2 separate regions of the Homo sapiens genome follow, and region 2 is linked to region 1. Evidence: fine-mapped expression QTL. A gene starts in region 1. The other region holds a variant in brackets. All regions are shown on one strand. Distances are from middle to middle.

Evidence for each region. PIP is the estimated chance that this variant, and not a neighbour inherited with it, causes the effect. A credible set is the group of variants that fine-mapping cannot tell apart.
Region 2: its variant is the best candidate, but not a certain one, in a credible set for the expression of NFATC2 in whole blood (INTERVAL, PIP 0.68).

Annotation. Positions count from the first base shown.
Region 1 is chr20:51,541,087-51,545,086 of GRCh38, reverse strand. NFATC2 (nuclear factor of activated T cells 2) reads left to right here and starts at 2,368. Exons shown (of 11, transcript NM_012340.5): 1 at 2,368-2,717. The coding sequence starts at 2,588. RefSeq lists silencers at 2,354-2,513, 2,524-2,633 and an enhancer at 3,398-4,000.
Region 2 is chr20:51,513,596-51,517,595 of GRCh38, reverse strand. NFATC2 (nuclear factor of activated T cells 2) reads left to right here. Exons shown (of 11, transcript NM_012340.5): 3 at 641-812. Among named protein-coding and RNA genes, the nearest start is that of NFATC2, 27 kb to the left of the region's middle. The variant C/T (reference allele first, on the strand shown) is at 2,457.

The DNA.
Region 1 (4,000 bases):
ATCCATCTCTTTCTAGATACCTGTCTATAAGTATCCTAGCTGGGGTCTTCACTCTTCCTTCCTCCACCTAAATGCATCAGCTGCCCCCAAGATGCTTGTTGGATACACATGGCACAGAAGTGCTTATAGTTAGGAAACAAAGGCTGGAATTTCTTTATGCTCTGACAACCAGGAGGTGCTGCCCAAGACTCTGAAATGATTCCTGAGCCAGCCCCCAGGCCCCTGCAGTAGAGTTTGAGTCTAAACCAAAGTGGTTCTCATCTCTGGCCACACATTGGAAGCATCTGGTGAGCTTTTACAAAATACTGATGCCTAAGTCCCAACCCCAAACATTCTGATCAAATCGATGTCTGGTGGTGCTCAGGTCGTTGAATACAAATTTTAACAGCTCTCCAGGTGATTCTAATGTGTAGTCTGGGTTAAGAACCACTGGTCTGAGTGCAATTTTGAAAACCCCGTTCATAACTGTGCTACTTTGCTTTCAGGGCATAAGCATGATGAAGGGAGAGGCTGTGGCTTGTTGATGGTTGCATCCCCAACATCTTGTGGCAGTGCCAGGCAGGTGCTCAATAAATATTTGTGGAATGATGGATGGCTTGGCACAAATCCCCTTAATGGAGCTGAGATGGCTCCCCTGAAGAATGCGTGTCCTCAATTCCTCCTGGCACATGGGGAAGGATTCGAATCACTTGAGGTCAAGCTGTGGTTCTCACGAGGATCTTAAGACCTCTCCCGTCTAATCTTCTCATCCTCAACACTGGCTGCACCTTAGATTCATCTGAAGTTTAAAAAAATTTTCAGGCCGGGCGTGGTGGCTCACACCTGTAATCCCAGCACTTGGGGAGGCCGAGGCGGGTGGATCACGAGGTCAGGAGATCAAGACCTTCCTGGCTAACACAGTGAAACCCCATCTCTACTAAAAATACAAAAAAGTAGCCAGGCATGGTGGCTGGCGCCTGTAGTCCCAGCTACTCGGGAGGCTGAGGCAGGAGAATGGCGTGAACCCAGAAGGCAGAGCTTGCAATGAGCCAAGATCGCGCCACTGCACTCCAGCCTGGGCGACAGAGCGAGACTCCGTCTCCAAAAAAAAAAAAAAAAAAAAAAAAAAAAATTAGGAATTCTGCTTCAGTGGGTTTGGATTGCAGCCCAGCACGGGAGTTTAAAAAGGTGTCCCAGGTGATTCTAATATGTGGGAAGGGTTGAAGACCACTGTTTTGATCTTTTCTACCTCTGTGAGTCTGTTTCCAACTTCAGCTAAGTTGGTGGAGCCCCCTGGCAGAGTTTTATTGGAGGGTGTTCTTTAGTTACTGGGTCCTTATGCAGTGTTTGCCAAATGTACCTGTTCATTAATGCTCACGTTGGGTGCTTAATTAAAAATACACATTCACGAGTCTGTATTCAGACTTATGGAATCAGAAGCTCCAGGGAGGGGCCTGGGAATCATGCTTTAAACAAGCAGCCAGGCGTGTTTGTCACTTGCCAACCGCCCCATCAGAACTGTACTCCTCGTTCTCCCTCCAGCACACCCAGCCCCTTCGAGCTCTGGCTCTGTGTTTTGGTTCTCACTGCCAGAACACACTTCCCCAAGATCGCCTCATCAATCAGGTTTCTTCAAATGTCACCTCCTCAGAGAGGTCCTCCTTGACCACCCAAGGGACTAAAGCCACCCCAACCTTTATCCCATACCCTGGTGAGTTCTCTCCTGGCCCCATAAGCAGATGCTTTTTGTCCTGTTTCTCTCCTTCAGGCCTCTCCCACTACCAGAGCCTGAGCTTCCGAGGGCAACAGTGTCTGGCTCCGGCTGGGTGCCCAGCACCTGGCACGTGGTAGGTGGCCAGGAGGCATAGCTGTAACGGGGGGGACTAGTGCTGTCAGTCCGATTCCTTCCTAGGCGCTGGGGAGTTGAGTTCAGGGCCATGCAGGTGTCTGAAGTACTGTGAAAATCATGCCGCCCCCGTGGGCACACGGAGACGCCTGGAGACACGGGTCTGCAATAGAAGGGGGTGGATACCCCCTTCCACCCCATGGAGAAGAAAAGCAGGAAAAAGTGTGGGGCCAGTGGGTCCCTTAGGGCAAAAGTCCTAGTGGCGGCAGCTTTCTTGTCTAGACCCTGGTTCGCGCAGCGCGTGTCGCACTCACCCGTGGAGGGTGGGAGACAGCGGCCGCCCCAGCGCCCAGCGGTGGCCCGGGACAGTGTGGTCAGGTCCGCGGACAGCCTCCTTCCTCCCGGCACCGGCCAGCCCAGGCCGCGCGCCCCTCCCCTCCGGTCCCCTGGTGGCGGCCCCGCCCCCGCCGGCCTGGCCGCCCTGTCCCCGCCTCCACGCCCCCCCCCCCCCCGCCTCCCCGGGCTGCAACAGGTGCCTCCGGAGCAGGAAGCTCGCGCCGCCGTCGCCGCCGCCGCTCAGCTTCCCCGGGCGCGTCCAGGACCCGCTGCGCCAGGCGCGCCGTCCCCGGACCCGGCGTGCGTCCCTACGAGGAAAGGGACCCCGCCGCTCGAGCCGCCTCCGCCAGCCCCACTGCGAGGGGTCCCAGAGCCAGCCGCGCCCGCCCTCGCCCCCGGCCCCGCAGCCTTCCCGCCCTGCGCGCCATGAACGCCCCCGAGCGGCAGCCCCAACCCGACGGCGGGGACGCCCCAGGCCACGAGCCTGGGGGCAGCCCCCAAGACGAGCTTGACTTCTCCATCCTCTTCGACTATGAGTATTTGAATCCGAACGAAGGTCGGTGGAGGCTACCCCTGGCCTGGCCCCTGAGCCCGCCAGGGGCTCAGGCCTGGGGACTGGGCACAGGAGTCCTCTTGGCTCCAGCCGTCCCCCTTCCTAAGGGGCCTGGAGGGAGGGTGCCCCTACCCAGGTGCCAGGGAGGGGAGGCGTCAGTGGCCCCTGCCACCCTTAGGGGGCGGTCGGCTCCCTCTTGCCCCTTAGGGGCACCAGTTTCTGGTTGCTCATGACTGCTCCCTGAGGGTCACTCTCAGCAAAACAAAAGGTGGCAGGCAGGTCCCAAGGCTGGGGGGCGGGTGCTGTCTGCTGGCCTCTTGCCTGGGACTGGGCTGTCAAAGGGCAAGGGACATGATTTCTGTGCCTTTGGAGGGAGGAGGTGAGGAAGCGAAGAATGGAGTTAGCAGGGAGGAGTTGCCAAAAAAAGAAGGAAGGGGGGTGCAGCTGAACCCAGTTATCAAGGGTAGGAGGCCGCTCCTTCCCTCCAGGCACTGAAGTGAGGCCACGCAGCTCCCATCACCTCCTGTGAGCAGTGGTTGACGGGGACTTTGTGTTGAAACTGAGGAAGAGGTTGTCTGTCTGATGCTGGAGAGGGTTAAAACCTTTGGTATTATAAGGCCGGCCCATTTCCTCCCTGGGTTCTGCTGCTGAACCCATCACTTACCACTCACAAGAGGATTGGTCTGAGCTATATTAAGTGATCTTCTACGCTTAGTCCTAATGGATGTGGTGGGATGGGGTAGGGTGAGGGGCAGCTGCAGCATGGATTCAGAAGGACACAGGCTCTTTCTGCCTGAACTTTGTCACTCTGTGCCTCCAACTGCCCTCAGTTGCTGGGGGCTGGGGACTTCCCCGGGCTGGGCCCAATGCTTATCTGTCACTTCACGTGTTTAACAGGAGCATTCGTTAGAGGGAGGAGGAGGAGGAGGGGGAAGCGGCCACACGCCCAACCTCACTGTGTATTTCTGGTTAGCAGGTTGTCTTGGAAAAAACAAAAAACCCAACCAGGCTTCCTGATTTTGACAGCCCAGCCCAGCCCAGCCAATGCTTGTTGAAGGCTCAGTGGCAGGCCTGTTAGTAGCTTCCAGACGCACTCTGGGCTTGCCTCCATCTAGTGTGTAGGAAGGGCTTGTGCTGACTGGCTCGTGGAGGAAGCCTGTCAAGGAGGCTTGGTGGCCTGATGTTTCCCACAAACACTGTGTTAGGCAGATAATGAAGTTTTCGCTTCCATCGGTGTCCTCTCTGGCCACGTTAGGTGAGGGGTTTGCTTTAGCTTTGGGTATCCT
Region 2 (4,000 bases), 27 kb after region 1:
TTTGAGACAGGGTCTCACTCTGGTCCCTCAGTCTGGAGTGCAGTGGTGCAATCACAGCTCATTGCAACCTTGACCTCCTGGGCTCAGATGATCTTCCCACCTCAGCGTCCCAGGTAGCTGGGACTATAGGCATGCACCACATTGCTTGGCTGATTTTTTTTGTATTTTTAGTAGAGACAGGGTCTCTCCGTGTTGCCCAGGCTGTCCTCAAATTCTTGGGCTTAAGTGATCCACCCATGTTGTCTTCCCAAAGTGCTGAGATTAAGTCATGAGCCACCACACCCAGCCATAATACTGTATTTTTAGTGTACCTTTTCTGTGTTTAGATAAGTTTAGATACTCAAATAATTCCCATTGTGTTACCATTGCCTACAGTATTCAGTACAGTCACATGCTGTACAGGTTTGTAGCCTAGGAGCCACTATACCATATAGTGTAGGTATGTAGTAGGCTGTGCCATCTTGGTTTGTGTAAGTGCACTCTGATGTTCACATAATGGTGCATTTCCCGGAACGTATCCTCATTGTTGAGCAATACATGACTGTATCCATGATTTTCAGAAAGGGCCGTTTACAATTATTGTACAAGTTGACTAATTTTGGTTTATTGCACACATGGCTGATTTTATTTTCTCCTTTAGCATCCCAGTGACTGCATCCCTCCCTCCACTTGAGTGGCCGCTGTCCAGTCAGTCAGGCTCTTACGAGCTGCGGATCGAGGTGCAGCCCAAGCCACATCACCGGGCCCACTATGAGACAGAAGGCAGCCGAGGGGCTGTCAAAGCTCCAACTGGAGGCCACCCTGTGGTTCAGGTATGGACTTGAATGCTCTTCCTTTTGTGTGTGGTGTTTGTCACTAAGAGATTCACTTCTGCTGACCCACTGTTTGTTGCTTGTTAAGGTGAGGTATGTGTCTCAGCCTCTTACTCCTTTGAGGAATGAGAAATATGAGATTAAATTAGCATTAGAAGCTAATCCAGCTACTCATAAGCCAGAAGAGAAAGTCTTCTTCAGCAGGATAAGGATAGAAATGATATTCATGTGCCCGGATGCTTCTTCCCTTCTCTTTCTGATGGAGAAACTGCTAGAGTTTTGCAGAGGTTTGTGTGTTGACAGAAGGTTTCTGAAACCATCACCTTAAGTTTCAGATGAAGAGTTCATTAAGAAAAAATGGTAATTTTTGTAAAATATAGAAAAGTAAGAAAAATTAAAACTATACATTATCAAACTACCTAAAATAGCTATATTAGTATTTTTATATATTGCCTTTCTTTTTTCTATTCACAAACACGCCAGCCTCTGTTACCATATATTTCTATTCTTAATTCTATAGTGAACATGTAGATTGTACTCTGATTTTTTAAGTTTACATTTTGCCATGAGCATTTCCTTTTGTTTTTTTCTTAATCAGTAGCTTTTTTGTGTGTCTGTGGCTTTTGATTTAACCTCAGATTTTTTTTTCAAAATAAGTAGAGAAGTGTGCCTATTTTTCCCCAAAATAATTGGAGTTGAAATATTCTTAATTGTATAATCTGGTTAACCAGGAACAACTGACTGGTGCCCACTAACAAGTCAATTAACTAGAACCTTTAATACATTTAAATTAATATAACTTTTTTTGGTATTTGCCTTAAAGTAGAAGTATCCTATTAATATGATAAAACTTGGTTCTTAATCTATAGTGTGCATCAGAACCTCTAGGGTGGTTCTTAAAAATTCAGATTGTTGGGCATTCTGAAACTAAATTAGAAACTATATAACATGAGTAAAGCCCAGGTAAACAAACAAACAAATGAAAAACAGCAAACTCCCCAAATCTCCACAGGTGCTTTGGGTGTGTACCTCTGATTAAGGACATCTATGATAATATTAAGAACTTGTAAGTCCTGACAATTGCTTTTTTTTTTTTTTAAATCAGACACCATAGCCATCTTGGAATCTGTTTCTATTCATTGAGTTTTGGTTCTTGACCATGAGTCCCATTTTCCTGTTGTGTTGCCTGTCTAGTAGTTGTCGACTGCATTCTGACATCGTGATGATATATACTGGATGTGGTAGACATTCTGAACTTTCTTTCGTGCTTCATCAGGTGGATCTGTGGAAAGCACAAGGTGTATCTAACTTGATGGGGCTTAGATTTTAAACTGTCTTCTCTGTATTTTATTTGAGGATTGGTTTTAGGCCCCATTAGGGCAGGCCTGGAGTAGCCCTTCCTCTGAGGCATGTGCCTGTTCTGAAGGCATGGCCATTTTGGATGCTTGGTGGGGAGGTCTCTTTAATCTGGTGGGCTGGAATTCCCATATGCCAGCTCCGCTGCACTCTTAGTCTCTCTGTTCTCTCCACCCCATAGCAGCCCCTCTCTGGTAAACCTCGCACCATCTCTCCCTGTGCTTACACAGCCCAGCCCTTGGCCAAAGAGTTGAGGGTTTCCCCCAGCAGCTTCCTCCTCTCTGATGC[C/T]ACCGATTCCAGCAGTTTCCACAGCCTGGCACTCTGAGCGGTGCCAGGAATCCAGGATTATTTCAGGAATCCTCAGCACAGCGGGACCACTGTGCTCTGCTCAGATGCTACTTCCTGCACGTGGCAGGGGAGCTGTCCCCAGGCAGAGAGCTGAAATGAAGGTGGGCTCACCTGTGCACTTCCTCTCCCTTGGGGACCGCAGTCTTCTGATTCCTGCCGTCCAATCCTGAGAGCAATTGCCTTATGTAATATATATATGTATTTTTTGACAGAGTCTATCACTCTGTCACACAGGCTGGAGTGCAGTGGTGTAATCTTGGCTCACTGCAACCTCTGCCTCCTGGGTTCAGGTGATTCCTCTGCCTCAGCCTCCTGAGTAGCTGGGATTACAGGTGTGCGCCACCATGCCTGGTTAATTTTTGTATTTTTAGTAGAGACAGGGTTTCACTATATTGGTCTGGCTGGTCTTGAACTCTTGATTTCAAGTGATCCACCCACCTCGGCCTCCCAAAGTGCTGGGATTATAGGCGTGAGCCACCGTGCCTGGCCAAGTGCTCTGTTTTATGTGTCCACAGCTCCATGCACCTTTCCTTCATGCTACCTGCCACTACTTGTAATTCTAACATTTGCATAATTATTTTGTCAATGTCTCTCTCTCTTAGACCATGAGCTTTGTTTAAAAGAGACCACAACTTCCTTCTTATTCTTCATTGTATATCACCATCAAGCACAGTTTGCTGCCACAAACATAGCAGGCACTCAACAAATACTTGGAGAATGAATCTGCTCATTAAATGCATTGGCCAAACAATTTTAAGTCTTAAGGAGAGAGAATCTGTATCCATTTCTGGCTTTGTGGCATCTTCATTCACTGATTATTCAAAAGATGTTTATTGAGCACCTACTATGTACCAGGCATGGTGCTTGATTCTGGGTTATGATATGAACAAAACAGCTGGAAATTCTCACCATCATGAGCTTACATTTTGGCAAGATGATAGTAATAATAAACATTTAGAAAACATTTGCTGCCTGTGAGATCCTGTTCCAAGTGCTGCATATGTGTTAACTTATTTAATCCTCAAAAGAGCCTTATGATGCAGGTAACAGGTCAAGTAGCTGTCAAGGACTTGTTCAAGGTTATGGCTATTAAATGGTGGAGCTGGGATTTGGATACCGCAAGCTCTATTTGCAGCACAGTAGATCTGATCATCCACGTCTCTTTGCAGACCAGCTCTTCCTGCCTTCTCACTTGTGCAGAAAAAGCCTGAAGGGGAAATGCCCACGCCTCCTGCGGGCCACTCCATTCCCCCTAGTTTTGCATGCTGTTCCAGTATGAGCCTTGTCATCACCTCATGGGAGCTAAATCCTGATTCTCAGGGAGATGCTGATTGGCCCTGTCTTGGGAGGGTGCCGCCCATTGGTCCAGTAGGCTGTGGCCTGGAGGTTGGGCTGCATGAGGAGTGAGGCTCAGCTCACCCATTCATCAGGGGCTGGGGCCCTGGAAATTTCCAGAGAAGGGAATGGGCTGAGTGTACAGTCCA